3 separate regions of the Homo sapiens genome follow, and regions 1 and 2 are each linked to region 3. Evidence: fine-mapped expression QTL. A gene starts in region 3. Each other region holds a variant in brackets. All regions are shown on one strand. Distances are from middle to middle. Region 1 has its middle 5.1 kb from the start of LINC02558. Region 2 has its middle 27 kb from the start of YWHAH. Region 3 holds the start of YWHAH (tyrosine 3-monooxygenase/tryptophan 5-monooxygenase activation protein eta).

What was found. PIP is the estimated chance that this variant, and not a neighbour inherited with it, causes the effect.
Region 1: its variant is fine-mapped to the expression of YWHAH in whole blood (TOPMed, PIP above 0.99). The same link has a PIP of 0.9 or more in blood mononuclear cells.
Region 2: its variant is fine-mapped to the expression of YWHAH in whole blood (INTERVAL, PIP 0.92).

The regions. Positions count from the first base shown.
Region 1 is chr22:31,960,669-31,970,756 of GRCh38, reverse strand. No RefSeq gene overlaps it. Among named protein-coding and RNA genes, the nearest start is that of LINC02558, 5.1 kb to the left of the region's middle. RefSeq lists enhancers at 575-684, 755-804. The variant A/G (reference allele first, on the strand shown) is at 5,531.
Region 2 is chr22:31,912,244-31,922,331 of GRCh38, reverse strand. No RefSeq gene overlaps it. Among named protein-coding and RNA genes, the nearest start is that of YWHAH, 27 kb to the left of the region's middle. RefSeq lists enhancers at 4,862-5,362, 9,664-10,088. The variant A/G (reference allele first, on the strand shown) is at 5,476.
Region 3 is chr22:31,939,248-31,949,335 of GRCh38, reverse strand. YWHAH (tyrosine 3-monooxygenase/tryptophan 5-monooxygenase activation protein eta) reads right to left here and starts at 4,801. Exons shown (of 2, transcript NM_003405.4): 1 at 4,516-4,801. The coding sequence starts at 4,602. YWHAH-AS1 (YWHAH antisense RNA 1) reads left to right here and starts at 3,970. Exons shown (of 3, transcript NR_171018.1): 1 at 3,970-4,103. LOC124900477 (a long non-coding RNA gene) reads right to left here and starts at 4,502. Exons shown (of 3, transcript XR_007068065.1): 1 at 4,101-4,502; 2 at 3,658-3,836; 3 at 184-1,872. RefSeq lists enhancers at 3,831-3,880, 4,624-5,481, 5,482-6,339 and silencers at 4,201-4,540, 4,611-4,830, 4,841-4,930, 5,211-5,360.

The DNA of each region.
Region 1 (10,088 bases), 21 kb before region 3:
CGTCGGCAGGAGCTCCAGCATCCCCTTTCCCGGGACGCCGCTCCTCTTCCCCGCCTCCTTGGCTCTCCCCCGGAGCCTCTTCCTCCTCCCCCGTTCGAGTGGGCAGGTCCCCGCGGGAGCCTGAGTCGCACTGCAGACCTATCCTGTGACCTGAAAGAAACTCCCAGTTCCCCATTAGACCCCCTGGCAGCCTGGGCATCCCGGCGGTTCCAGGGACCCGCTGGGGCGGATGACGGCCGAACCTTTGGGCGCCAGGCTGGCAGTAGACGTGATAGAGGTGAAAACCCCACCACCCTCTTAATCCCCAGAAATGCTACAGGATTCTGGGGGGCCTGAGCGAGCAGCTGAGGACAAGGGCCGATGATATTTGCTTTATTTGTTACTGGGCTTGCTCCCTCCCCCGCATCCCGCTGCTCTTCACACTTGCAAGCTCACCTGACTGCCAGGTGGCCGGTCTGGAGCATGGCGAGCACCTTCGAGCCCCATAGATGGCAGCACAGGCCTAAGAAAAGTCGTACCAGAATGGTGTCTCCCTTCCAAACTCAGGCCGGGAGAGATAGAGCCACTTAGGGGAGAAAACTAATGTCCAGAGTGGCAGAAACATCCTCACATCCCGAAGGGTCTTGAACCCTAACTTCTTGCCCCAGGACAAGAAGACAAGGCAGAGTAAAGAGAGGCTCACAGGGAGAGGCAAGTGACAGTTCAGAACACAGGTGCACCATGCCACGCGACTGTGGGCGTCTCCTCACCTCTCTGAGGCCGTTTCCTGAACTGTAAAATCAGGGACAAGAAGGATACCTGCGTCACGGGATGTTCTGAGATTAACTGAGATGCTGCATGCAAATCACTTAACCACAGGGCATGTGGTAAGTGCTCTAATATATGTAAAGCAACGTTCCACTGCTTTTTGTTTGTTTGTTTTTGAGACACAGTCTCGCTCTGTCACCTAGGCTGGAGTACAGTGGCATGATCATAGCTTACTGCAGCCTCAAACTCCTGGGCACAAGTGATTCTCCCACCTTAGCCTCCTGAGTGGCTGGGACTATAGGTATAGCTATCGAGCCCAGCTAATTTATCTTTTTTTATGTTTTGGAGAGATGGTGTCTTTCTACATTGCCCAGGCTGGTCTGGACCTCCTGGCCTCAAGCAATCCTCCCGCCCTGGCCTGCCAACGTGCTAGGATTACAGGACTGAGCCACCATGCCCTGCTGAGTGTGATGTCTTTTTTACTGTGTCAACTTGGCTAGACTAAAGGCCCCAATTATTCCAACACTAAACTGGATGTTTTGGTGAAGTTGTTTTGTAGATGCGAATAAAGTCCATTATCAGTTGACTTTACATAAAAGGAAGATATCCTGGATAATTTAGGTGGGCTTGATAGACGCAGTTGAAAGGCCTTAAAATCAGACTTGAGGTTTTCCTGAAGAAGAAATTCTGCCTGTGGATAGCAACTTCAGCCCTTGACAAGAGTTCCAGCCTGCACTTACTGCACTTACCTAGCCAGCCCCACAATCACGCAAATCACCTCCTTGCAACAAATCTCTTAATCTGTATCCCCTTACTGGTACAGTTTCTCTGATTGAACCCTAATACATTAAGGAAGCAGTATGGCCAGGCGCAGGGGCTCACACCTGTAAACCCAGCACTTTGGGAGGCCGAGGCAGGCGGATCACTTGAGGTCAGGGGTTCGAGACCAGCCTGGCCAACATGGTGAAATTGTCTCTACTAAAAATACAAAAATTAGCCTGGTGTGGTGGTACGCGCCTGTAATCCCAGCTACTCAGGAGGCTGAGGCACAAGAATAGCTTGAACCCGGGAGGCGGAGGTTGCAGTGAGCCGAGATTGCACCACTGCACTCCAGCCTGGGCAACAGAGCAAGACTCTATCTCAAAATAAAAAGGAGTGTGTGTGTGTGTGTGCGCGCATGTGTGTGTGTGTGCGTGTGTGTTGGGGGTCACAGGGCCTAATCTTCGTGTTTATTCACTCCTTTTTTTTTTCGAGGCAGTCTCACTCTGTTCCCCAGGGTGAATTGCAGTGACACGATCTTGGCACACTGCAGCCTCGACCTCCCAGGCTCAAGCAATCTTCCCACCTCAGCCTCTTGAGTAGCTGGAACTACCAGGCCTGGCTAATTTTTGTATTTACTGTTTTGCCATGTTACCCAGGCTACTTTCAAACTCCTGAACTCAAGCAGTCCACCTGCCTCGGCCTCCAAAAGTGCTGGGATTACAGGTGTGAGTCACCGTGCCCAGCCTATTCATTTCTTTTTAATCTCCGGGTAGTTTGTGACTTTTGAGGTCCAGTACTTGGAGGCACTAGCAAAACCATGGTTATTTATTGGTTGGGGTGGGCTATGAGGTAGCTAGAGGCAGAGGGCCCCTTCCACCAGTCCTGCCCCCTGAGGCCTCAGCTTCGTGGATGTGCCTGCTCATTCCCCTCTTCTCCCTGCCTCAGGTGTAGGCCTGGAAATGAGAGCTACAAAGTATGCTGTCCCTGGGAACCAGCTGGTGAGGAGGAGGCTTCTACCCCAGCAACCATCTGTCCCACATGTCCCTGTACCCCGCCTCTCCCGCCTCTACCCCACAGGCTCATGTGTCATGCACAAACACCTTTTGCCCGCCTGCCCTAATTCTTTTTTTTTTTTTTTGAGAAGGAGTCTCACTGTGTCGCCCAGGCTGGAGTGCAGTGGTGTGATCTCGGCTCACTGCAACCTCCGCCTCCCGGGTTCACGCCATTCTCCTGCCTCACTCTCCCGAGTAGCTGGGACTACAGGTGCCCACCACGACACCCGGATAATTTTTTGTATTTTTAGTAGAGACGGGGTTTCACCATGTTAGCCAGCATGGTCTCGATCTCCTGACCTCGTGATCCGCCTGCCTCGGCCTCCCAAAGTGCTGGGATTACAGGCGTGAGCCACCGCGCCCGGCCAGGCAGAACCTTAAAGGCAGGTGGAGAGCACCTGTAATAGAAAGTGGCTCTCATGATGAAGCTCTGCTGAGCTGAGAGATCTTGTCACTTCCTAGACCCTTGGTTTGCTCCTCTGCACCCTCAATGGTGGTGAGCAACAAGGAGGTGGCCAACTTGAAAGCACCTGGGGCTTTATGGGCTCTTGGATTATCTTCCTTTCCTCCCCAGGAAACTCGGGAGGCTGGAGAAACATCACATGGTGGGAAGAGAGTAGGCTCATGAGTCAGCAAGCCTGAGTTTGAGGCCTGCTGCCCCCACTTGCAAGCCATGGGACCTTCAGGAAGATCTGGAACCTCTCAGAGCCTGATTTCCTCATCTATAAGATGGGCCATGGCTGGGCGTGGTGGCTCACACCTGTAATCCCAGCACTTTGGAAGGCCGAGGCTGGTGGATCACCTGAGATCGAGAGTTCAAGACCAGCCTGACCAACATGGAGAAACCCTGTCTCTACTAAAAATACAAAATTAGCCGGGTGCGGTGGCTCACGCCTGTAATCCCAGCACTTTGGGAGGCCGAGGCAGGAGGATCACGAGGTCAGGAGATCGAGACCATCCTGGCTAACACAGTGAAACCCCATCTCTACTAAAAATACAAAAAATTAGCCGGGCGTGGTGGCGGGTGCCTGTAGTCCCAGCTATTCGGGAGGCTGAGGCAGGAGAATGGCATGAACCCGGGAGGCAGAGGTTGCAGTGAGCCGAGATCGCGCCACTGCACTCCAGCCTGGGTAACAGAGTGAGACTCCGTCTCAAAAAAAAAAAAAAAAAATTAGCTGGGCGTGGTGGCGCATGCCTGTAATACCAGCTACTCGGGAGGCTGAGGCAGGCGAATCACTTGAACCCAGGAAGCAGAGGTTGCGGTGAGCCGAGATTGCACCATTGCACTCCAACCTGGGCAACAAGAGTGAAACTCCATCTCAAAAAAAAAAAAAAAGAAAAGACAGGCCAGTGGGTGCGGAGCCCCCTCCCAGAGCTCCTGTGGGGACAGTAACACAGCTGGCACACAATGCTCTCTCCACCTTTAGTAGGGGGTTGGTAAAAGTGAAAGCCCCCATGTTAACATAAGAGTGTCGTTACTACTGCTGAAAAACACGACACCCGATCCCTCTAAAAAAAATCCCAAAAACCTGCTTCTCCCGACGTGCAGCGTTGAAAAAGGCACTCCTTTTTAAGACCACCCCTGAGAGTGTGTGCCTCCTTAAATGTTGTTCCCTAGGCCTGGCACGGTGGCTCATGCCTGTAATCCTAGCATTTTGGGAGGCCTAAGTGGGAGGATTGCTTGAGCCCAGAAGTTTGAGACCAGGCTGGGTAACATAGCAAGACCCCACCTCTACAAAAAATAACAAAAATTAGCTGGTTGTGGTGGTGTGTACTTGTAGTCCTAGCCTCTAGGGAGGCTGAGGTCAGAGGATCATTCCAGGACGCAGTGAGTTATGATCTTGCCACTGCACTCCAAACTGGGTAACAGAGTGAGACCCTGTCTCTTAAAAAAATAAATAAAATTTAAAAATTTAAAAACCTATGTCGTGGGCCAGATCACATGAGGTAAGGAGTTCAAGACCAGCCTGGCCAACATGGTGGAACCCCATCTCTACTAAAAATACAAAAAAATTAGCCAGGCGTTGTGCCACTTGCCCGTAATCCCAGCTACTCGGGAGGCTGAGGCAGGAGAATCGCTTGAACCCTGGAGGCGGAGGTTGCTGTGAGCCAAGATTGCGCCACTGCCCTCCAGCCTGGATAACAGAGTGAGACTCCATCTCAAACAACAACAAAACAACAACAACAAAATATACATATATAATATAATATAGATATAGATATATGTTGTGACCTAGGCACCTCTCTTGCTAACCTTAAGCCCAGCCCTGCACCCCTGCATCATCTGAAAGATGACTACTCATCTTTCACCCCACTACTCACAACAGAAACCTGGGTAGCCTGAGTCCTTCCTTGCCCTCACCCTCAGACTCAGTCCTTTGGCAAATCCTGTCAACTCTACCTCCCAAATAGTATCCACCATGTCCCTCAGTCACAGCCCCCACATAGGTCCCTGCCACTCAAGCTCTCTCTGGAGCAAACTACTCTCCCATCTGTCCCACGCAACAGCCAGGTGAGTTCTTTTTATTTATTTTTTATTTTTATTTTTTTGAGACAGAGTCTCGCTGTGTCACCCAGGCTGGAGTGCAGTGGCGTGATCTCGGCTCACTGCAAGCTCCGCCTCCCGGGTTCACGCCATTCTCCTGCCGCAGCCTCCGGAGTAGCTGGGACTACAGGCTCCCGCCACCCCACCTGGCTAATTTTTTGTTTTTCTTTTTCTTTTTTTTTTTTTTTTTTTTGTATTTTTAGTAGAGACGGGGTTTCACCGTAGTCGCGATCTCCTGACCTCATGATCCGCTCGCCTTGGCCTCCCAAAGTGCTGGGATTACAGGCGTGAGCCACCGCGCCCGGCTTTTTTATTTTTCTGAGATGGAGTCTCGCGCTGTCGCCCAGACTGGAGCGCAGTGGCGCGCACTGGAGTGCAGAGGGAGCACGCAAAGTATCAGGAGTGGAAAGGAGGCTGGCGGCCC[A/G]GCGGAAAGCAGGCTGGAGAGGAATTCAAGATGAAGGTAACATGGGCAGGGCGGCAGGGACCTTGAAGGCCTCCATCTTCTCAGCACTGGGAAGCCCTGTGGACGTGTTTTGAGCCGTGAGAGAAACACTCCTGTTTGCATTAAAAAAAATCAGCCAGGCGTGGTGCCTCACGCCTGTAATCCTAGCACTTTGAGAGACTGAGGCGGGCGGATCACCTGAGGTCAGGAGTTCAAGACCAGCCTGGCCAACACCGTGAAACCCCATCGCTACAAAAATACAAAAATTAGCCGGGCGTAGTAGTGGGCGCCTGTAGTCTCAGCTACCCGGGAGGCTGAGGCAGGAGAATCACTGGAACTTGGGAGGCAGAGGCTGCACTGAGCTGAGATCGTGCCACTGCCCCTCCAGCCTGGGCAACAGAGAGAGACTCCATCTAAAAACAAAAAACAAACAAACAAAAAAACATGTCCCTCAAGTGCCTTCGCTTTTCAGCACCATGCCCAGTCCATACCACAATGTGCATTTGGGTGACTGTGGGGTCACCCTCACCCCACCACACACACATGACCCTGAGCACCATTAGGACAGTAATCTGGGCTGTTTTGCTCCCTGTGGTATCCCTAGTAGCCATACACAGGAGGAGCTGAATCAAAGCATGCTGGATGAGCCATAGCTGAGGAAAGAAGGCCGGGCACCTGCCCTGATTATGGGCAGGGGGCCACATACCCTGGTTTGCTTGGGGAGGCCATGTTCACTTGTCTTTCCCACATAATAATAATGGTGCCCTGTTCACTCTCAAATGTCCCAATTTGGTGACATATGATCAATGTAGTTATTGGAAAGGAGAAGGGGTTAGCCCCGAGCTTCTGCTCTTTCCCAGCCCCACACTGGTTTCCCACTTGCCCCCAACAAGCACAACATTCAAAGCTTTTTCTTCTAACTCTTGAGATTTTTTTGTTGCTGTTAATATTTCCCTACATTGCCCTCAATCTCCAGAAAAAACATAAAATTCTCTCTGCCCATTTCACTGCAGAAGTGGCCTCCTGGAGGGTTACCATGGTGATCAGATGATGTCACTGTCCTGGAAACAGTTGCCTAGGAAATGTGTGATGTCACTTCCAGGAGATGATTCCCATGGTAACCATCTCAGTGGAATTGGGGGGTGGCCAGGAAATGGGGGCTGAGGGCGGATACAGAAGGGACAAATGTGAAGAGCGGAAGGAAAGGGGGAGGGGGAGAAATGCAGGAAAAAACCAGGAAGAGGAAGGGGACCTTCCCAGAGCAGTTGAAAATAATATACAGAATCTCAGAAATGGAAAGGTCCCCAGAGACCACTAAATGCAACAACCTCATTTTTACAGAGGCTGCTGAGAGGCCAGGACTTGCTCAAGGTCACACCGCCAGTTGACAGGTTAGAGCCAAGCCCAAGGCTGCATGACTGTCAGGTTTGGGTGGGGTAATAAAGGATTCCTTTCAGCCATTTCTCTTTGTTTTGTTTTGTTTTTTTCCCCGAGACAGAGTCTTGCTCTGTCGCCCAGGCTGGAGTGGCGCAATCTCGGCTCACTGCAACCTCCACCTCTCGAGTTCAAGCGATTCTCCTGCCTCAGCCTCCCGAATAGCTGGGATTACACATGTGCACCACCACACCCAGCTGATTTTTGTATTTTTAGTAGAGATGGGGTTTTACCATGTTGGCAAGGCTGGTCTTGAACTCCTGACCTTGTGATCCGCCCGCCTCAGCCTCCCAAAGTGGTGGGATTACAGGCGTGAGCCACCACGCCCAGCCTCAGTCATTTCTTTTTAAAAATTCTGACCTGTAATCAATGAGTTATTCATGAATTCATTACTGTGAGTTTGTGTGCTGGACCTGGAGAGGACCGTGAGTGACATTTTCCTAGTTACTTTATATCTTTTTAATGTATCTTCCCCACTTTTTTGTATCTCCCCACTCTAACACTGGAGTTAGCCCCCTGGTCCATGTCCATGTCTGTATAATTCACTAAGGTCTCTCCAGCCACCTGCCCAGTGTCTACCCCATAATGGCAGCTCTTCAATGTGTTTGTCAAATGAATGAAGACAGATAAATGCCATTGTGTGGTACAGACCCACAGTACTGGATCCCAAAGAAGGGATCGCAGTAGCTGACAGGGAGGAGGTAAGATTTCATAGATAGAATTCGAATAGGGCAAGAGAAGAAAGCCAGACAGGAGAGTAACGGCTTGAGCAAAAGTAAGAGCAGGCTGAACAAACTGGGTGCAGCTGGAGAGATTCCAGTTGGTGCTTTGATCCACCTCTTGAGTTATACTGTAACGGCAGTGCCTACTGTAACTGTAGTACCTCACTTTTTGAAGTGAAGGAGCTCCAAGCTTTAGGAGTAAGAAGCACATTAAGGTCCAGATTGCCTGGAGATGTGGGTGGGGCAGTAAAAAAGACCAATCTGGCTTAAAAGGCGAATGTAAAGAAGGTGATTGAGCAAAGGCTACCTGGCAAGGAAGAAAGAGGTCTTATCAAGGAAGACCTGGAGTGGCAGGCTTTCAGCCCCTGTCTTGAAGACAACATCGCATCATGAAAAGGATCTTGAAGCCCTGCACAAAGACATGCTCTGCCACTCCTCAGCTATGTGACCATAGAAAGTCACTTTTCCTCTCTGAGCTGCTAAATTGGAGCTATGACCTAATTCACAAGATTATTAGCTTGAACTTTAAAATGTAGGCTGGGCGTTGGCCGGGTGCAGTGGCTTACGCCTGTAATTCCAGTACTTTGGGAGGCCGAGGTGGGCGGATCACCTGAGGTCAGGAGTTCGAGACCAGCCTGACCAACATGGAGAAACCTGTCTCTACTAAAAATACAAAATTAGCTGGGCGTGGTGGCGCATGCCTGTAATCCCAGCTACTTGGGAGGCTGAGGCAGGAGAGTCGCTCGAACCCAGGAGGCAGAGTTTGCACTGAGCCAAGATTGTGCCACTGCCCTCCAGCCTGGGCAACAGAGAGAGACTCCGTCTCAAAAAAAAAAAAAAAATGTAGGCTGGGCGCAATGGCTTATGCCTGTAATCCCAGCACTTTGGGAGGCTGAGGCAGGAGGATCACTTGAGGTGAGGAGTTGGAGAGCAGCCTGGCCAACATGGTGAAACCCTGTCTCTACTAAAAATACAAAAATTAGCCAGGTGTGGTGCCATGCACCTGTAGTCTCAGCTACTCAGGAGGCTGAGGCAGGAGAATCGCTTGAACCTGGGAGGTGGACATTGCAGTGAGCTGAGAGTGTGCCACTGCACTCTAGCCTGGGCAACAGAGTGAAACTCTTGTCTCAAAAATAATAATAAAAAAATAAAAATGTACATAAAGCTTCACTTAGCAGGGTGACTGACTAGCTCACAAAAGACAGCAAATGTTATTTCCCCTCCCCTTCCTAGTACAGAATGGCATGGGAGTAGAACTTTGGGAAATGAATTTGACAATAGATTCCTTCAGGTTTGTTTGTTTGCTTGAGACAGGCTGTCACCCAGGCTGGAGTGCAGTGGTGTAATCAGGGCTCACTGCAGCCTCAACCTCCCAGGACCAAGCAATCCTCCCACCTCAGCCTCTCAAATAGGTGGGACTACAGGCATGCAACAACACAGCTGGCTAAATTTTTGTACTTTTAGTACAGATGGGGTTTTACTGTGTTGCTCGGGCTGGTCTCAAACTCCCGGACTCAAGCAATCCTCCTCCCACCTCGGCCTCCTAAAGTACTGGGATTACAGGTGTAAACCACCTTGCCAGGCTTGTTATAACATTTCTAGGACTCCTTTTCTCTAGTTGGGGATCAAAATATCCATGGCGTAGTGGAAAGAACCTTAAAGTAAGACAGCCCATTTCAATCTCAACCTTGCCTCTTACTAGCTATGCACGTTACATCACCGAATACCTGGTTTCCTCATGTGTTAAAAATATTAACATTCCTCACTGCTAAGGCTGCTGTAAAGATTCAGAGACCATGCATTCAAAGTACCCAAGACACAGTAAGTATTTGAGATGGTAATTTTTATTAGCCAGTCTAATGATTGGGTTTTATAATGAAAGAAGACCTGTTAAGTCACACCCAGCTCTGAATCATAGTGTTTGTGCTTGCCTGATAGTCACATCTGCTAAGATGAGGACCCTCTCAGTCTCTGGATGGCAGATTCTAAGGGTGTATGGGAGGAAGGTATGGAGGGCCTGATGGCCCACGCACAGCCTATTTAATCTTACAGAGCCAAGAGGAATCCTAGCTCCCTGATCCCGAAGGATTTAAGGACGGCCAAGAATTTACCCAACAATAGCTTCATTATCAAGAATCCTACCCCTTCCCCCAACTCAAAGAAATGGACTTTTGAGCAGGGTTTGAGGAGCTACTGGAAATCTGAAGCAATAGCAACAATAATTTTTTCTGGGGGGGGGGGGGGGGCGGGGACGGAGTTTTTGCTCTTGTTGCCCAGGTTGGAGTGCAATAGCGCGATCTCGGCTCACCGCAACCTCTGCCTCGCAGGTTCAAGCGATTCTCCTGCCTCAGCCTGCTGAGTAGCTGGAATTACAGGCATGCGCC
Region 2 (10,088 bases), 27 kb after region 3:
CTACTCACAAGGCTGAGGCAGGAGAATTGCTTGAGCCCGGGAGGCAGAGCTAGCAGTGAGCCGAGATCGTACCACTGCACTCCAGCCTGGGCGACAGAGCGAGACTCTGTCTCAAAAACAAAACAAAACAAAACAATAATGATTAAAAAATAATAAGTGGCTGGGCACAGGTGGCTCACACCTATAATCACTACACTTTGGGAGGCTGAGGCAGGAGCATTGCTCGAGCCCAGGAGTTTCAGGCTGCAGTGAGCTACGATCATGCCACTGTGCTCCAGCCTGGGTGACAGAGAGAGACCTTCTCTCTAAAATGAATAATAGTAATAATAGTAGTAATAATAATAATAATAAGAGAGCTCATGTTACTAGGCCGGGCACCTGTAATCCCAGCACTTTGGGAGGTTGAGGCGGGTGGATCACAAGGTCAGGAGATCCAGACCATCTTGGCTAACACAGTGAAACCCAGTCTCTACAAAAAATACACAAATTAGCCAGGCGTGGTGGCGGGCGCCTGTGGTCCCAGCTACTTGGGAGGCTGAGGCAGAAGAAATGCTTGAACCTTGGAGGTGGATGTTGCAGTGAGCTGAGATCGTGCCACTGCACTCCAGCCTGGGCAACAGAGCAAGACTCCGTCTCAAAAAAAAAAAAAAAAAAAAAAAGAGTTTGAGGGACAACAACTTCGAAGACACTTGGTTTGTAACTTAGGCCCTTAATCCATGTGGTTTGTTCTGTCAATAAGCATGCATGCATGGAGTGCCTGCTACGTGCTAGGCACACTGAGGCTACAGCAGGGACCAAAAACAGTCCCAGTGCTTACATTCCACTGAGCAGAAAAGACAATGCAGAAGCAGGCAGATAATGCAGAAAATTTTAGATGATGTTAAGGGCTATGGGGAAGAGACGAGAGGACACAGAGGTGCTGCTTTCTAGACAGGATGGTCAGGGAAGGCCTGAGAAGGCAACGAGTGACACCCACAATAAGGAACCAACCAAGCCACAATCTTGGGAAGAGGGTTCCAAGAAGAGGGGAGACATGCAAAGGCCCTGAAGCAAGGGCAACCTTGGGGTGTTCACGGAACAAAAAACAGGAAAAGCTGCATCATTCTGAGTAGGAGGAGATGAGACTGGAGAATGGAAACTTCTGGAAGCCCAGGCAGGCCTCACAGGGCCTTATGGGCCCTGGCAAGGAGTTGAGGTTTCATCCTGAAATGATGGGAAGTTGCTGAAGGATCCTCAAGCAGGGGAATGATACAACCTGTTCTATGTTTGTTTGTTTGTTTGAGACAGTCTCACTCTGTCCCCCAGGCTGGAGTATAGTGATGTGATCTCAGCTCACTGCAACCTCCACTTCCCGGGTTCCAGTGATTCTCTTGCCTCAGCCTCCTGAGTAGCTGGGACTATAGGCACGTGACACCATGCCTGGCTAATTTTTGTATTTTAGGTAGAGATGGGGTTTCGCCATGTTGGCCAGGCTGGACTTGAACTCCTGACCTCAGGTGATCTACCTGCCTTGGCCTCCCAAAGTGTTGGGATTACAGGCGTGAGCCACCACACCCGGCCTGTTCTGTATTTTAAAGAGGGCATGCTGTTGCTGTGAGAATATATTCCTGAAGGCGAAGGAGGGTGCAAGAGGACAGTTAACGTTGTGTCGCATCAGATGGAAGTGGAGATGGGGAGGGGGGTCAGATTACAATATATTTTTGCTAATGGGTTAGATGTGGGGGATGAGGGAAGGGGAAATATAGGATAATTCCAAGGCTTTCTGCCTGAATAACTGGGTAGATGATGGTACAGTTACTAAATCCGGGAAGACTGTGGGTGGAACAGGTTTGGGTGAGAGCTGGGGGTTGGGTGCAGAGCTAAATCAAGAGTTGTGTTTTAGACACATCAAGTTCACTGTTCTCTTAAATCTCTAATGAGAGGCCAAGAAGGCAACTGGACTGATAGGTTGGAATTCAGAGGTGGGATGGGCTAGAGATCTTGAGACTTGTGGGCATGTAGATGGTAATTAGGATCTCAGGATTGGGTCACTGGGGGAATGCAATGAAGAAAAGAGGTCCAGGAGACACAGATTGGGGTCTTCCAATGTGTGGAGACTGCACAGAGGCCAGCAAGGGAGGGTGAGATAGAAAGCCAATGGAGGAGGGCACCAGGAGAGCCCCAGCTCCACTGACCAACCTTGTAACCTCAGGCAAGTTGCTTCCCTTCTCTGGGCCTCAGTTTCCCCTATGTGGACAAGGGGATGGCCATATTCATCACTGAGGTGGTTCCAGCTTGATCATCCTGGGACACTCCTGAGAAAGAGCGGCAGCAGTTTCTGCAGCCACCTACCACAGGAAGAGATCAAAGCTCAGGCTCCCCCATCTCGTTTCCAGGACTCCTACAATGAAACTGAATGAAATCCCAAATACAACAAAACATAGCCCAAAGGTCGGCCACTCAGAGTTAGGGGCTGGGTAAGGTCATGGTGACCTGGAATAGAATCCAGCCTTTTTGTCACTTGCCAGATGGGTGACCCTCAAGCCTCAGGTACTTATCTGTAAAATGCAGCCAACAGGACCCACAGCAGGGGTCTGTTGTTAGAACTAAGCCAGGTATGGGTGGACACGGTGGCTCACACCTGTAATCCCAGCACTTTGGGGGGCCAAGGCAGGCAGATCACCTGAGGTCAGGAGCTCAAGACTAGCCTGGCCAACATGGTGAAACCCCATCTCTATTAAAAATACAAAAATTAGCTGGGCATGGTGGCGTGTGCCTGTAGTCCCAGCTACTTGGGAGGCTGAGGCGGGAGGATTACTTGAACCCGGGAGGCGGATGTTGCAGGGAACCGAGATCACACCACTGCACTTCAGCCTGGGTGACAGAGTGAGACTCTGTCTCAAAAAAAAAAAAAAAAAAAACAAAAAACAACTAAGCCAAGTAGCAAGCAAAGCATCCTGCATGGCTCCAGGCATGCATGCAATCAATGATCAGCTCCTTCCTGCTTTAGGAAGACTCCTTCCCTGAATCAGGAGAGAGGGAGTCCAACCTGGCTGCACTCTCAGAATGATGTAGTCCTACTGCTGGTCAAGCCTGGGGCTGCCAGCTCTGTGCCACCCTGCATCTCACTTGCAGAGTACGTGGTTACCCAGCTAATCACAGGAATTAGGGATCTGCAAAGACTGACTAGGTCATCTAGCTGGAGCCTGGGGCACTGTGGAAGGTGGGAGGAGGGAGGGGGGACAACAGCTTCTAAGGCTGACCGTAGCTGTAGACTCACCCCAGCCTTTTCCCAGGCTGCGTTAACCTGGCTGGCAAAGGGCAGTGATATGACAGCAGGGGAACACTATAGCAGAGAGTGAGCTGGAACTCGGGCCAATGTGTTCAGCCCAGTGACAGCTCCTGGCTCAGTGTCTCCTAGAAGCAGCCCTGGAAGAAGACAGGGACTGCAGGGGCAGCTGCTGGAAGGCGAGCTGGGCACGCAGCCTGGATTCCTGCCCCACCTCTGTCACAACCATTAGGCCAATGGCTCCACTTATTGGGCACCTCCAAGGTGGCAGGTGCTGTGCTAGGTGCTTAACTGAAGAGCTCTTCAACAACCTTGCAAGGAGGGCAAACATGTCCCTGTTGAAAAGATGAGGAAACTGAGGCTAACAGAAGAGGAAGGCTTGCCCAAGGTCACCCACCCTTCTAGACGTTCCTTCTTTTCAAGACATAGACAAGACACCCTTCCGCAGCACACACGGTCCTGCGCAATTGGTTCTGCTTCCTTCTCCTGCTGCACCTGCCCCTTCCTCTCCCTTGGCCTTCCATCAGGTCTCCATGGAAACATTCAGAAGCCTTCCCTAGGCCCCAGAATAGGTCAGGCTCCCCCTCACACCTTTTTTTTTTTTTTTTTTTGAGACAGAGTCTCACTCTGTCGTCTAGGCTGGAGTGCAGTGGTGTGATCTCAGCTCACTGCAGCCTCCGACTACCGGGATCAAGTGATTCTCTGCCTCAGCCTCTCCAGTAGCTGGGATTATAGTATAGGCACCTGCCACCACGCCGGCTTTTTATTTTATTCTATTTTTTTGAGATGCAGTCTCGCTCTCTGTCTTGCCAGGCTGGAGTGCGGTGGTGCAATCTCGGTTCACTGCAACCTCTGCCTCCTGAGTTCAAGTGATTCTCCTGCCTCAGCCTCCTGAGTAGCTGGGATTACAGGCACATGCCACCACGCCTAGCTAATTTTTCTATTTTTAGTAGAGACGGGGTTTCACTATGTTGGCCAGGATGGTCTTGATCTCCTAACCTCATGATCCGCCCACCTCAGCCTCCCAAAGTGCTGGGATTACAGGCGTGAGCTGCCGCGCCTGGCTCCCCTTACACCTTTCACAGTGGCCTCTCCTTTGTCTTTTGGGCACTTTTCGCAACTATACTTATTACTTCACAACCCTAAAAATCGTTATTTGTGTAATTTTTTGTTTAATATCCTTCCTCCTGCATCTACACGATGCCTGGCACATGGGTGACTGTTAATACGTATGTGTGGAAAGCACGGTGACTAAACCTGTAAACAACAAATGAGCGAATAAACCACAAACAAATCTCCCTCCCGCGGCGATGGGCTGGCTGCGATTCCACTGGGACACAGGGACTTGTATAAAGGGGCAGCTCCCTTAGAGTCTACATCATCAAACCTAATAGGAACAGTATCTTGTGATCACTGTGACCTGCAGCCCAAGGGGGTATGCACAAAGCAATCCCAAGATGTGTGCAGTGGGGGGTGGACACCCAGCTCCCTGCATGGGTCAGACCCCAGAGCTGGCCAGTTTCTCTGTTGTCCTCCAATCTGGCTTCCAGTGGTGGCAGCCACTCTCCTGGTTCCTGCAGGAGAGAGACGAAAGTGGCGAGGGGGTGTCTCACAAGGAGAACTGTGCCGGTTTCATTTCTGCTTTGAGGCGAGACACATCCTGTGTGTCAGACTACCCAGGGAGTGCTCCTGTTCTCCCAGCGCCAACCACCAACAGTGCAGTGACCAGGAGCAGGAGACCCTGGGGAGTCGAGACCAGGGACATGGCTGTCATGGCTGTGCAGGGAGCTTGGCCCCAGGCCCCACCCTGCCTCCTTCCCTGCACGGCGGCCTCTCCACAGAGGCCACTCTCACTGGGTTTCTGTCTTCCACACCCCATCTCATTGTGAGGAAAAGCCCAGCCTGGCTGGAGGGGATTAGGAGCAGGTGGGAGAATGCAGACAGGTGCGATCTCTCCTCTGCTCTGTGTGCTCAGTAACCCCAGGCAAGTCCCTGAACTTCCCTGAGACTCAGTTTCTCCTCTGAGAAGTGGGGGTCCCCACTCACCTCCATCAGGGCTGTCCCCAGGCCCTAGCAGGTTGGTGGACACACACTTGTTTGGGGTTCAATATACAAAATAAGCTCTTGCTGTTATCTTTTTTCTGCTTTCTTTCTTTTCCCAAGCTTCAGACTAGCTAGTGGTATATCATGTTCCTTGTACACCTGCT[A/G]GGCTCATTCAAAGCAAAATGTTTAGGCAGAGCATGGTGGCTCATGCCTGTAATTCCAGCACTTTGGCAGGCCCAAGGTGGGTGGATCACTTAAGCCCAAGAGTTTGAGACAGCCTGGACAACATAGTGAGACCCTGTCTCTACAAAAAATTAGTGGGGTGTGGTGGCATGTGCCTGTAGTCCCAGCTACTCGGGAAGCTGTGGTGAGAGGATCAACTGAGCCTGGGAGGCAGAGGTTGTAGTGCGCTGTGATCACGCCACTGCACTCCAGCCTGGGTGATAGAGCAAGACCCTGTCTGAAAATAAAATAAAATAGAAAACCAGAATGTTTGGCCTCCGTTACGGGAGCATTTACAGCACTGCCTTAAAATGGGGGAGCACCCTGCACCGCTCAGACACCTTTGCAAAGCTGACTGCCTCGGGTCCTCACCATGATCCCTCAAAGAAAGCTGGAGAAACGCCGTCATCACTGTACCCTCAAACTTGAGGTCGAGTGAGGTGAATGGACTTATTCAGGATCACAGGTAGTTGGCACTATTGTCAGACAAGAGTAACAGTGGCTTTTCCTCAGACTCAGTTCTCAAAATGCTGCCCCACCACCCCCCCCTTTTTTTTTTTTTTGAGACAGAGTCTCCCTCTGTCACCCAGGCTGGAGTGCAGTGGTGCGATCTTGGCTCACTGCAACCTCCGCCTCCCGGGTTCAAGTGATTCTCAGCCTCAGCCTCCTGAGGAGCCGGGATTACAGGCGTGCACCACCACACCTGGCTAATTTTTGTATTTTGAGTAGAGACGGGGTTTTGCCATGATGGCCAGGCTAGTCTCGAATTCCTGGCCTCAAGTGATCTGCCTGCTTTGGCCTCCTAAAGTGCTGGAATTACAGGCATGAGCCATTGCGCCCAGCTCAACAACCCTTATCTCCCAGGTTCTCACACCGACTTCTTGAGTTACGTAACGAAGTCTTGATGATTCCCATCTTGTCGCTAGACGGATGAGGGTCAGGGTGGTTTCAAAAGCCTATGCAGGGTCACCTGGTGAAGAAACAGCAGGTTGAACCTGGGCGCAGCGTTCTGATTCTGAGGAGAAAGGGAACATGAAAGAGATCATTTCCCTACTTGTCTTATCAGACACCGGCTACCACCGTGGAGCTTGGGTGTGTTCAGAGGCCATTGTTCTACCTACATCTGGGGCCAGGAAGAGCAAAGGCTGACAGGTGAGCAAGGCCTTGTGTGGCATGACACCAGGGGACAGGCTGGCTCAGGGCTTCCAGACAATGGGCCATTTTTTGGCTCCAGTGTGCACCCAGGGACTTGCCAGCACTCACCTCTAGTTGTTGAAAGGGCAGGCTGGGTGAGGCAGGTCGGGGAACTCTCTCTGCAGTTCTTCCTTTCAGTTTTTAGTCGTCTTCTCCTGACTGTTCTGTTGCCAAAACCCCCCAGCCCTCCAGCATCCCCTTCCCCACCCCATCCTCCTCACCTGCTAGAACTCTTATGTAGCTGTCAAGTCCCAGCCCAAATGCCCCTTTCTCCAGTCTTCCCCAGCTCCCCTACACAGACTGAAGCCCCCTCCTCTATTTCTTTTTTTCTTGAGACCAAGTCTCGCTCTGTCACCCAGGCTGGAGTGCGGAGGTACGATCTTGGCTCACTGCAAACTCCCCCTCCCGAGTTCAAGTGATTCTCCTGCCTCAGCCTCCCGAGTAGCTGGGATTACAGGCACCCACCACTATGCTTGGCTAATTTTTTTTTTTTTTTTGTATTTTTAGTAGATAGAGATGGGGTTTCACCATGTTGGCCAGGGTGGTCTCGAACTCCTGACCTCAAGTGATCCACCTGCCTCAGCCTCCAAAAGTGCTGGGATTACAGGCGTGAGCCACTGCACCTGGCCAATTTCTTTCTTTCTTTTTCTTTTTCTTTTTTTTTTTTTTTTTTTTTGAGATGGAGTATTGCTCCGTCACCCAGGCTGGAGTGCAGTGGCACAATCTCGGCCCACTGCAAGCTCCGCCTCCCGGGTTCATGCCATTCTCCTGCCTCAGCCTCCTGAGAAGCTGGGACTACAGGCACCCACCACCATGCCTAATTTATTTGTAGTTTTAGTAGAGACGGGGTTTTACAGTGTTAGCCAGGAAGATCTTATCTCCTGACCTCGTGATCCGCCCGCCTCGGGCTCCCAAAGTGCTGAGATTACAGGTGTGAGCCACTGCGCTCGGCCAGCGCCCGGCCAGTTTCTGTACTGCATTACAGATAGCCAATCTGAGACCTCTTCTAGAGGGCTATGGTGGCTGCTTTGCATGTCTGCTTCCCTCCACGAGGAGGGCAAGGCCCACGTTGGTTCAACCTTGCATAAATGTTGGCTGAATGAATGAATTCAATAAATTCTAAATAAGCACCAAATGTGTGATGGGTGCTTGCTGTGGAGGATACAAGGATGAGCAAGATGTGTTCTCTGCCTCCAAAGAGCTTACATTCGATGGGAGAGGCAAGGTACGTGAACAAGGAAAGTGGAAGGAAACACAGAAGCCATGTCCCAGCAAGTGAGCACTCAATATGGCCAGCATTCTAATCTGGTGCTGCCCGTAACTTGCTGGAAGCCTCTAAGCAGGCTTCTTAGCCACTCTGGCCTTGGAACCCAGCAAGAGTAATTCCTATAGATTGACGATGGGGCTGCCATTGGATTCAGATCACAGGAAGGGGCAAGTGACAGGTGCCTCTTCTTCCAAAGTCACAGGAGGGAGGGAGTCCCCCCGTCTAAGCCTCTTACCTGACCACAGTCTAGTTCATGGTGTCTGAAGCTGACACGATTGACATTGGAGGCTGGATAATTCTTTGCTGTAAGGTCTATCCTGAGCATTGTAGGTTTTTTAGAAGTACTCACTAGAGGCTGGGCACAGTGGCTCACACCTGTAATCCCAGCAGTTTGAGAGGCTGAGGTGGGAGGATCACTTGAGGCCAGGAGTTCAAGAACAGCCTGGCTAACATGGCAAAATTCTGTCTCCACAAAAAAAAAAAAACCAAAAATTAGCCAGGCATGGTGGCTCCAGGTACTCAGGAGGCTGAGGCACAAGAATCGCTTGAACCCGGGAGGTGCAGGTTGCAGTCAGCCAAGGTTGTGCCACTGTGCTCCAGCCTGGGTGACAGAGTGAGACCCTGTCTCAAAAAAAAAAAAAAAAAAAAAAAGCATAGAGCAGAGAGACAGCCAGGCATGGTGGCTCAGGCCTGTAATCCCAGTGCTTTGGGACGCTGAGGCAGGAGGATCTCTTTTTTTTTTTTTTTGAGACGGAGTCTTGCTCTGTTGCCCAGGCTGGAGTGCAGTGGTGTGATCTTGACTCACTGCAAGCTCTGCCTCCTGGGTTCACGCCATTCTCCTGCCTCTGCCTCCAGAGTAGCTGGGACTACAGGTGCCCACGAGCATGCCTGGCTAATTTTTTTTGTATTTTTAGTAGAGACGGCTTTTCATCGTGTTAGCCAGGATGGTCTCGATCGGCAGGAGGATCTCTTGAGGCCAGAATTTTGAGACTACTTGGGCAACATAGCAAGAATCCCGTCTCTATAATATTTTTTTTTTAGACGGAGTTTCGCTCTTTTCGCCCAGGCTGGAGTGCAATGGCATGATCTCGGCTCACTGCAACCTCCGCCTCCCTGGTTCAAGTGATTCTCCTGTCGCAGCCTCCCAAATAGCTGGGATTACAGGTGCCTGCCACCATGCCAGGCTAATTTTTGTATTTTTAGTAGAGACGGGGTTTCACCATGTTGGCCAGGATGGTCTCGATCTCTTGACCTCATGATCCACTCACCTCGGCCTCCCAAAGTGCTGGGATTACAGGCGTGAGCCACTGCGCCAGGCCTTTTTTTTTTTTTTTTTTTTTTTTTTTTAATTAGCTGGGCGTGGTGGTGCACGCCTGTAGTCCCAGCTACTCAGGGGGGCTGAGCTGAGAGGATTGCTTGAGACTGAGTTCAGGGTGGCAGTGAGCTGTGATAGTGCCACTGCACTCCAGCCTGAACAACAGAGGGAGACCCTGTATCTCTGAGAGAAAAAAAAAAAAGAGCACAGAGAAGAGGCAAGAAATTGCGTTCCAGTGGCAACTGTGGGACTGAAACAGACTGGAATTCCCCCCTCAGCACTCATCCATCCTGTTGGTTGAGAAAGGAAAAAGTCTATATATAATCTTATGGTCCCCAATGTTTCTCCCAGATGAGTTCAGATGAAAATTCTGGGGCTCAGGGAGAAAAGACTTTTCCAGAGATTGCATAGCAATTCCCCATCTCCCCTCATCCCCATGGGAAAAGAGATTTTCTTGTTGGAAGGACTATGTGCTGATTCACTGAGGAAACAGGAATCTTGCTGCAGCCAGAGAAGCAGATGGAGGTCAAATCTGAAGGCTGGTAGGACTCAGTACTCGGCACCAGCTTTTGCTACATGCAAATGCTACATCCCAGGCATTTCAGGCCAGGTTTAGGGCAAGTGTGTGGCACAGTCTGAAGGCCAGGAGCTGCCTGAAGCACTTGCAGGCTGAAGCCACAGCTGCAGACCAGAAGAGAGGGCACACACAGTGCCTTCCAGATAGAAGCCTGGCAGGGAGGAAAGGCCACTGGTCCTGCCTCAAAGTCACTGAGTCACTG
Region 3 (10,088 bases):
CCCATCTCTACTAAAAATACAAAATTAGGCGGGCATGGCATGGTGGTGCATGCCTGTAATCCCAGCTACTTGGGAGGCTGAGGCAGGAGAATTGCTTGAACCCGGGAGGCAGAGGTTGCAGAGAGCCGAGATTGCTCCATTGTACTCCAGCCTGGGCAACAAGAGCGAAACTGTCTCAAAAAAAAAAAAAAAAAAAAAAGTAAAATATGTTATATAAACTTGCTAAATGTAACACACACACACATAAAACGTTAGGGGTACCCTCTCCGAAACCGTATTTCTGGAAAAGTGTGACGCTACAGTCTGTCACTGATATAAAATCCCAGACAAAGACCAACTAAAGAAAATCCCCACCAAAGAAAATACATTTTTGGTTTCTTTAAGGGAGTCAGTTCCGGACTGTGGAAGTTCTTCTGGGGATAATTCAGGGACCCAAACCCACATGGGGACTACAGTTTCTATTTCAGTGCAAGAAAGCCACGTAAGCTGTTTGCCCACCTGAAAGGACCTTTTAAATTCAAACTATTACAAGAATAATCCAGAGCCTTCTTCCTTCCTCAAAGACGATTACATTTTAAATGCCCAGTTAGTGGGAAACATAGCTCCCTAGTTTTTACATATTTCAAACTGTAGTATCAATGTGGCTTTAAGATTTCCTACTGGTTGGGTGTGGTAGCTCACTCCTGTAATCCCAGCACTTTAATAGGCTGAGGCAGGAGGACTGCTTGAGGCCAGGAGTTTGAGACCAACTTGGGTACCATATAGAGATCCTGTCTATACAATTTAATAATTAGCTGGGCACGGTGGCATGCATCTGTAGTCCCAGCTGCTCAGGAGGTTCACTTGAGCCCAGGAGCTCAAGGCTACAGTGAATTATGATCGTGCCACGACTGCACTCCAGCCTGGGTTCCAGAACGAGACCATCTCTTTAAGAAAAAAAAAAAAAATACTAATCACACCTCAAAATCCTCCTACTCTCTGTGACACTGATCTGTCTCACCTGGGGCAGTCAGCTGTGCACTTTTACACAGCACCTGCTCATTTCCCCACTTCCCAGAATCTCACAGTTGTTGCAACAACAGCCTTTTGCCAGTGGTTGGGCCAAATGCCCCTCCTCTCCGACTCCTGTTTCCTTAAACTGTAGTTTTGTTTCCTGCACTTAAGATTTCTAGGGAGCCGCTGTGGCTCAGGCCGGTTGCCCTGGCACTCGGGGAGGTGAGGCTACACGTTCGAGGCCAACCTGGTCAACACTGATTAAAAAAAAAAGATTTCTATATATATATTCTGCAGGTACTTTAAACGTGTTTCTGCCCGTTTTCTGTCAACACTGTAATCAACTGGTGTATCAGTGTTAAAACACAATGCTAGCCCAGTAATTTTTACATTTGATAACTTTACAGTTACCATCTATGTTTTAATATAAAATAGATGACTTAGGGCCATAATACATGATGAAATTATGTCTGTCTATGAATATCCACCAGAAATCTATCTGGTTATTTTCCCTCTTTCCTTAAATCACTTAGTCTTCTGGACTAACATTTAATCCCACTTTATAGGTTTATTTCAGTTATCAAATGGTATTTACAGAGACTACGAATTGTGTAGCCTAGAATTGCCTAGCCTAGAAAGGACTTAGGTTCTAGAATCTTTCACAATATTTCTTCCCACTATTATACTCTATGCAAGCTGGTAGGTATGAGATAGAGCTTGAAGATACTCCTTTATGCTTCACTTCAGAAACATTTCTTGCTTCTTCAAATTATGGAGAGAAGCAGGGAAGAGAAGTTCTCAACAGGTTTGAGGCAAGACCATTGTTTCCAGTATGCACGATTTTTCTTCAAGCTTACCAACACTGTCCTCCAGGTGACGCTGGTAGAATGAGGAACATCAATCATTACAGGAAGGCAGTATTATCAAGTGAGCATTTTAATTATGAAGGAAACAGAAAACAAGTTAGAAGACTGAAGGCAAAACTGACTTGTTAATAACAGCAACATCACTAGTTTTATACTTCAGAGGACCTAAAGCCAAGATGTAAGTTTCAAGGTTACAGACTGGTGGCATCAGAATATATCCTTAACACATGTGTCCTGCTCCATCCTCCCTACAGCAGGCTACTTACCTGCCCTTCCCCAGCCCTGAAGAAAGCCCAGGTAAACCCAGAGGGTTACTGAAACTTACACCCTTTCCAAAAGCCTTAGTTAAGGCTGATGAGATTAATAACATAGAGACTGAGTCATCCCAGTAACATTAAGAATTTAATCTACAAACACCAAGTTAGCAGGGAAAGTGACCCCTGCCAGTCCCTTCCAATATATTCTTTTTTTTCTTTTAAAGAAAATACCTATAAGCACAATATATTCCATTTAGATGATGGGGGAGAAATGGTTTATCACCATTCTGAGATGGCAGAATTAAAGCTTGGATTGACTCTTCTACGCTGGGTGGCTTTTCCAACTCATTAATTATTTCAAATATAGATATTATAGATTCCTTTGGTTTACAAAAGGCTACCTTAACCCTCCAGAGAAGATCTATGGACACAAGTAGCTTGCTGCAGGAAAGCATTTTACAAGCCTACTAGAAAGCCAGTCTTTTTCTCTGCTCAAACTAGATTTCGTTCTGGTAACATCTCTCCATTCTTGCCTTTTTCCCCCATTTCAAGTTGCCTCAGGTTTCTGATTGTTCCAGAACACACCTTCTAGCCATTTTTCCTTAACCTCCATTTCCCCTTCCTTTAAACCTCGTCCCTCCTTTCTTTTCACCACATTTATTTCCCAAAGGGCTCCGAACACTGCAGTCTTTACGTCTCACTTAGAGGGTGAGCAACCACTTCATGAAAATGTGTGGAGAGGCCTCAGCCTGCATAATCCCAGCACCACTCAGTTACTGGGGAGGAGGGGCTTAAGTGTGACCTGCTGTGGACAGAGGCAGCTTTATCCCACAGAAAATTAAGGTTCAGGGTCCCTTCCAAGGAAATGCATTCGTCAGTCCCATTTTTGTAAAATATGCAAAACTATATTTTAGATTTTCTTTTAAAGGACCCCCTGAATTACATAAAGTTCAGCCTCCAGACCTAGACCGTCCCCCGGTCTGGAAGAAAACCTGCCTCACCACAACAGCATGCTAATAGTGCTCAAGTCAAGATCACCAACAAATCAACATACGGGCAACGGTGTTGCTGGTTTCCAAACACACCCAGTTATGTGTGTAACAAGGACACCAGAGGAAAGGCAACTCTTCAAGCACCTTTCTTACCTGAACAATCCTAAATATTGGCCCCAACTACATATTTCATCTGATATTAACATCAAAAGCCTTCAAATGAGCTTTCCAAATGACTTAAGATTTTAGGGAGCCTTTGTATTGGCAGTTTTTTTTCGGAACTCCCTCCAAAAGGCCAGCAAAGGATACATTTACTATAATCATGGGCAGTAATTCTCAGACTTAAGCCAGCTAAAAATCGCCTGTGAGAGCTGGTTACAATGCAGATGTCTGAGTCTCACCGCCCGAATTTCTGAATGTATAGGTCTAAGGCGGAGTTCAAGGGGATCCTCCCAGGTCTCAGGAGGTTGTACACTGAACATAGGTTGGTGGTCGCAGTTGTTCTACCACTGTGTGACCTTGACGCAGGGAGAGGAAATATTCATTTACAGAAAACGTAAAATAACGTGGAGAGAGAGTGAGATGGTAACCGGAACTCAGAAATGCAGGTGGTGTGTGACCCACGGTATTTTGCTAGGGTGTGGCTGGGCACGACTCATCCACCGGAGAAGCTGCAGAATCGATTTATGAGGGTCTCAGGAATGCAAAGACACACAGATTCGTCTCACCTAGAAGTCACGTTTCATTTTAATCTCCAAGCAGACAGCGCAGCAGCAAACCTGGGGCTGTGGAGTGGGGCCCCACACCCTCCGCCCACTCTCCCGCCCCCGTCCACGCCTAGACTGCAGGAAAGGGGTCTTCGCACACAAAGCCAGACCCCCAGGCGTGGGAAGATGGAACCAGAACAATTCGAACGAGCAGAGCAAAACAGATCGGAATTGCAGACTTCAGGTCGTGGCAGAGAAAACCAGCTGAGACAGGGCGCCACTTACTAGGTGATTCTTTATTCCAAGTTGGGGAACGGAGGAAGACGAGAGGGGGAGCCCCCGGGTCCGGTGAAACGCTCTAGGAGAAATGCGGCTCCTTCGCGTCCCCTAGGGCACCCTCTGCCCCCGGCCGGGTTCCGAACTAAGATGTGGCGACCCCGACCGGCCCGCCCCCCTTCCGGGGCTGCCTTCGCGATCCCGAACTGCACCCTCCCGGATCCCCCACCCTGGGCCCAGCCTCAGGAAGTGGCGGGGCGCCCAGCGGGAGCGGGAAGCGCGGGCTAAGGGCGGGCGGGCGGCCACGCCCAGCCGGGTCGCCGGGTCGCCCATGGCCGGGAGGGGAACGCGCCCGCGGCCATCCCCGTCCCTCCCCAACGCCAGGCCCCCCCCGGCCAGCCGCCCGGGCTCCCGGCGCGCTCACCGCCTTCATAGCGGAGGCCATGTCGTCGTAGCGCTCCGCCTGCTCGGCCAGCCGCGCCCGCTGCAGCAGCTGCTCCCGGTCCCCCATGTCGCTCGCGGCTCGGCCTCGCCTCGCGCCTCACACCGCTGGCTCGCTAGCCCTCCCGCCGGTCAGTCCGCTCCCCGGTCGCTGCGGAGGCCGCCGCCGCGCACGCGCACTGGCTCGCCGGCCGGCCGGAGGCTGCAGGCTGCAGGCTGCAGGCAGCGCCGCCGCTCGCGCCCTCTCGCTGGCTCGCCCCGCGCGCTGTGGCTCGCGCCGCGGACAACGCCGAGGGAGGAGACGCGGCCGCGCTGGGGGATGGGAGGACGGGACGACGCCTGCGCAGTGAGAGTGGCCAGGCCGGGCGGCGGGGAGCGGCGGGAGTGGGAGGGGGGAAGGGCGGGCCGGCCCTAACGGTCTATTTCAAGGTGACGTCACCTACTATAAATAGCCACCGCCGCCGCCGCCGCCCGGCCTGAAAGCCGCGCAGGCGCTCTGCGAGTGCTGCATTTTACCGCCGCAGAGATGGAGGTGGAGAAGGGAAAGCCGGGCAGGAGACTGCGGAGCCGGTGGAGGGGGCGCGGTGATGGCGGCTGCACAGGCAGTGCATTGTCATAGCCCCACCCTGAAACGCGCCACTCCATCCACGTTAGAGATCTGGCTTGAGAAGGGCCCCAAAAGCAAGCAAACATACTGGCGGAGAAGCCGGGAGACCGCGTGCCCCGAGGGGCGGGTCCGCCCAGCCCCGCCCCAGCCGTCCCGCCCGCCCCGAGCCCTGCCTGTCCATGCGTTCTGCTGGGCCACACCTTGTACTGGTCCGGGCAGGATCGAGTCCGACCCTCGGGGACAGCCCCGCTACACAGACACACACAATCGAACCCAACCTGAGACGTAGCCTTGGGCAGGCTGTGCCTTCCACCAGAGGAGGGGACTGGGTGGCCAGGGCGGGACAAGTAATATTCAGGACACATTAGGAGCCAGCCCAGTGCTAGTCCCGTACAAGCATCCTCCTCTTTAATCCTCACTACCCAGCCCACAGTGGGCACAGCTGGTCTCCCCATATTTAAAACGTGGAACCTGAGGAAAAGCGAGGTTAGTGACTTGCTCAGGGTTACGCAGCCTGTAAGTGGTGGGGCCAGGATCTGAGTCCAAACCCAGGCTGAACTTTCTCTTGTGGCAAAGAGCTGGGGTGGCCCAACTGGCTGGTCACTGAGCCCCTCCCAATCCTGGCTGGTATTGGATGCTGAGGGTCCCTTGTGCCAGGCCCTGGACTGGGCTGCCCGACAAGCTAGGAAAATGATGATTAAAACAAGGCCCCCACTTGATTTCAACACGCCAAGGGCAGTGCAGGAGAGGGGGCCTTGGGCTCGCTGAGAATTTTATTGAGCATCTACTGCATGCTCAGCCCACAGGGATAAGCTGGATCTTGAAGGAGAGTCAGGAAAAAGATTAAGGCCTGGGGTACAGCATTGGCAAAGGCTTGGCAGTGACCTGGGAGATGGTGAGAAGAGAGGCCTAAGAATGGGAAGTGAGGTTGGGTAAAACAAGATTACGGAGTCTTTTAAATGCCAGGCCAAAGATTTGAGGCTTCATCCTTAGGTAATTGGGAAGCCATATTTCAGGCCTGGAATCTTGCTCTAGAGAGTAAGACATGTTCGAAGGGAGAAGGGAGGGAACTGGAGACCAGGCCTTTTCTGGACCTGTTTTCCATCTGGAGAATTGGACTTAACTGTTTCAAGGACTTTAGAATAGATATCCACATGCTGAAATGTCAGAGCTGGCAGGACCCTTAGAATCACCCCTGTCTAACCCCTTATCCTGAATAACGGGAAACTGAGGTCTGAGGGAAAGGAGGGGCTGGCCCTAGTTTGCACAGCGAGTGAGCAGAGCTGGGGTCTCCATACCAGGTTTCCTGCCTCCCAGGCCTTCCTCTTCCTGCTATGATGCTGAAACGATCACACTTCTGGGGGCCCATGAAACAGGATTTGAATGTGGGTCTAGGAGGAGGCCACTACCCCAGGCTTCACCATGCTTTGAAGAGTCACTTTTGCTGTTGGAATCGAGGTTAACAAACCAGGCTAATCTTTCCCCTAGTGAATATATTTAAAGAGCATGCTAGATAGTAATGAATCATCCACTCCACCCCCCATAAGGATGGGGTCCCAGTGAGAGATGGGAGGAGGGCCAGCCCTGGATGGGGGGACCTCCTCGGTTCCTTCTAGCTCTTAGAGGGCTTAGAGCCCTTCCAGCTTTTCTGATGAGGTTGGACTAAGATTGATTTCAAAACAGTGAAAATTAGGTAGAGCTGGAGCATTCTAAATAATTGATTTCTGACATGTGTAAAGGACACTCTGGTTCTCCCATGAAGCTTTTCTTCTCACCAAACTTCCTCATCTCCTCTTCCTCACCTCCTACCCACCCATCAGCTCAGTGTGCTCTCACCCTGTCCCTACTCCTCCACCGTGGCCATCAGAGCCCTCCTTGTTGTCAAAGCCAAGGAGGTTTCATAGTGCCCACCTCCCTGGCCCTCTTGGCTGGACTGGGCACGACTGCTCACCCTTCCTTGACCGACTCTCCCAGCTTCCCTTCTGCTGCTCCGGCCATTGCTCTTCTATTTGCTGTATGGGCTTGTCTTCTAGCCTACCCCAAAATACTAGGGTTCCTCAGGGCTTTGTCCCGAGCCCTCTTCACACACTGCCCTATCCTTGGTGACCCCATCCTCATGCACTCTAAGGAACCATCTACCATGTTCCTAGTACCAGGCAAGGTGCTTTGCAGAAACGTGCATTTTTTTTTCCCTCAAGATACCCCTGTAAGGCTGGTCCGATTTCCTTTCCTGTTTTTTTGTTTGTTGGCTTTTGTTTTGTTTTGAGATAGAGTCTCACCCATTCACCCAGGCTGGAGTGCAATAGTGCTCTCTTAGCTCACTGCAACCTCCGCCTCCCAGGTTCAAGCGATCCTCCTGCCTCAGCCTCCCAAGTAGCTGGGGCTACAAGGCGCACGTCACCGCACCCAGCTAATTTTTTCAGAGAAAATTATTTAAACTCTTGTGCCTCATCTGTTAAATGGATTTTTTAGTCTTTTTTTTGGTTTGTTTTTTTCTCTAAGAGATGGAGTCTCGCTCTGTTGCCCAGACTGGAGTGCAGTGGCACAATCTTGGCTCACTGCAATCTCCGCCTCCCAGGTTCAAGCTATTCTCCTGCCTCAGCCTCCCGAGTAGCTAGGACTGCAGGCATGCACCACCAAGCCCAGCTAATTTTTTTGTGTGTATTTTTAATAGAGATTTCACCAGGTTGGCCAGGCTGGTCTTGAACTCCTGGCCTCAAATGTACCTCCTGCCTCGGCCTCCCAGTGTGCTGGGATTACAGGCATGAGCCACTGCGCCCAGCCAGTTTTTAAAATTTGTTTGTTTAATAGAGCTAGGGTTTTGCCATGTTGCCCAGGCTGGTCTTGAACTCCTGTACTCAAGCTATCCACCCACCTCGGCCTCCCAAGTGATGGCACTACAGGCGTGAGCCACTGAGCCCGGCCTCCTTCCCGTTTTACAGATAAGCAAACTGACACAGAGCTGTCCCATGGTTTAAACAAAGTCACACAGCTGGGAATGGGCAAAGCAAGGATTCAAACTCAGATCCATCAGACACCCAAGTCTGAGGGCCTCACACTGCCCCGTGGTGTCAGCTGAGAAGAGCTCAAAGTGTGACTCCCTGTTGGGGTCACTCAGATTATACAAAGCATACATAAGCCTCCCACCATGTGGCCTACACACTCTTACCAGCACACATCTTCTTTGCCCTTGGGAGAGAGTTGCTAACGCCCAAGAGCCTCATCAATAAAAATCAGGGTCACCACCTGCGACAGGTCACCTACTCCCAAGGCTCTACGTCCTATCGATAAACAGGGCCTTTGAACAACGTCAAAGACAGCACCTGAGTGAGGTGAGGGAGGTCAATGGTTAATGTCAAACACACTTTGTTGCCTCAGGGCTCAGAGCAGGTCCCCAGTAGAGGAGCCAAGTCTGGGTCTTCACCTGGTACAGGGTCTCACTCGGGGAACAGAACAAACCGCCCCCCCCCCCGGGTTCCTGAACACACGTGTGTGGTGTGATTTGAGAAAGAACGTGGTTCTTGTCTTGGGTTCGAATCCTACCCTGCCAGTGCACCAGCTGAGTACCCTCCGGCAAGTCACTTGTAAAAAGGGACCAATAGCCTGGCACAGTGGCTCATGCCTGTAATCCCAGAGCTTTGGGAGGCCGAGGTGGAAGGATCACATGAGGCCAAGAGTTCAAAACCAGCCTGGGCAACATGGCAAAACCCCAGTTCTACAGAAAACAAAATACACACACACACACACACACACACACACACACACACACACATTTTATATTTTTTTTTTCTTTTTTTTTTTAATGAAGTCTGTCTCTGTCACTGAGGCTGGAGTGCAGTGGCATGATCTCAGTTCACTGCAACCTCTGCCTCCCAGGTTCATCAAGCAATTCTCCTGCCTTGGCCTCCCGAGTAGTTGAGACTACAAAAAATATTTTTAAAAAAGAAAAACTGGCCAGCCGTGGTGGCTCATGCCTGTAATCCCAACCCTTTGGGAGGCCAAGGCGAGTGGATCACCTGAGGTCAGGAGTTCGAGACCACCTTGGCCAACTTGGCAAAACCCTGTCTCTACTAAAAATACAAAAATTAGCGGGGTGTGTTGGTATGCGCCTGTAATCCCAGCTACTCAGGAGGCTGAGACAGGAGAATTGCTTAAACCCGGGAGGCAGAGGTTGCAGTGAGCTGAGATCGCACCATTGCACTCCATCCAGCCTGGGCGTCAGAGTGAGTCTCCATCTCAAAAAAAAAAAAAAGGTCAGGCATGTTGGCTCATGCCTGTAATCCCAGCACTTAGGGAGGCCAAGGTGGGTGGATCACCTGAGGACAGGAGTTTGAAACCAGCCTGACCAACATGGTGAAACCCCATCTGTACTAAAAATACAAAAAATTAGCTGGGCGTGGTGGCAGGCACCTGTAATCCCAGCTACTCAGGAGGCTGAGGCAGGAGAATCGCTTGAATCCCGGAGGCAGAGGTTGTAGTGAACCGAGATCACACCATTGCAGTGCAACCTGGACAACAAGGCTCAAAAAAAAAAAAAAAATTCCTCACTTGCATCCCACCCTGAGCTAGTGGTCACGACTGCTCCTCACGTGGGACTGCATTTCTAAAGCATTGCCAGAACCCTCCACCAGAGCCCAGTGAATAGATGACCCAGAAAAGGCACATCCTGGTTTTTTTGTTTTTTTGTTTTTTGTTTTTCCACTCATGGATACTCTGAGACACTTACTCTGAGCTGCTGAGAAGTCTGGACACCAAGGGACATATTACAAAGGAGACGTGATGTTGTTCTGGAGAGATGGCATTTGCAATGTTGGCATGGTTACCATCTTGAGCTGGAGCAGCCGCCTGTCCACAAATTATTAATAATGTCACCCAGATAGGATTTTAACTTTTTCTCCCACTGTAGGCCACCTGCAGCCAAGGTGACCTTGCCGACCCAGCCAATGATA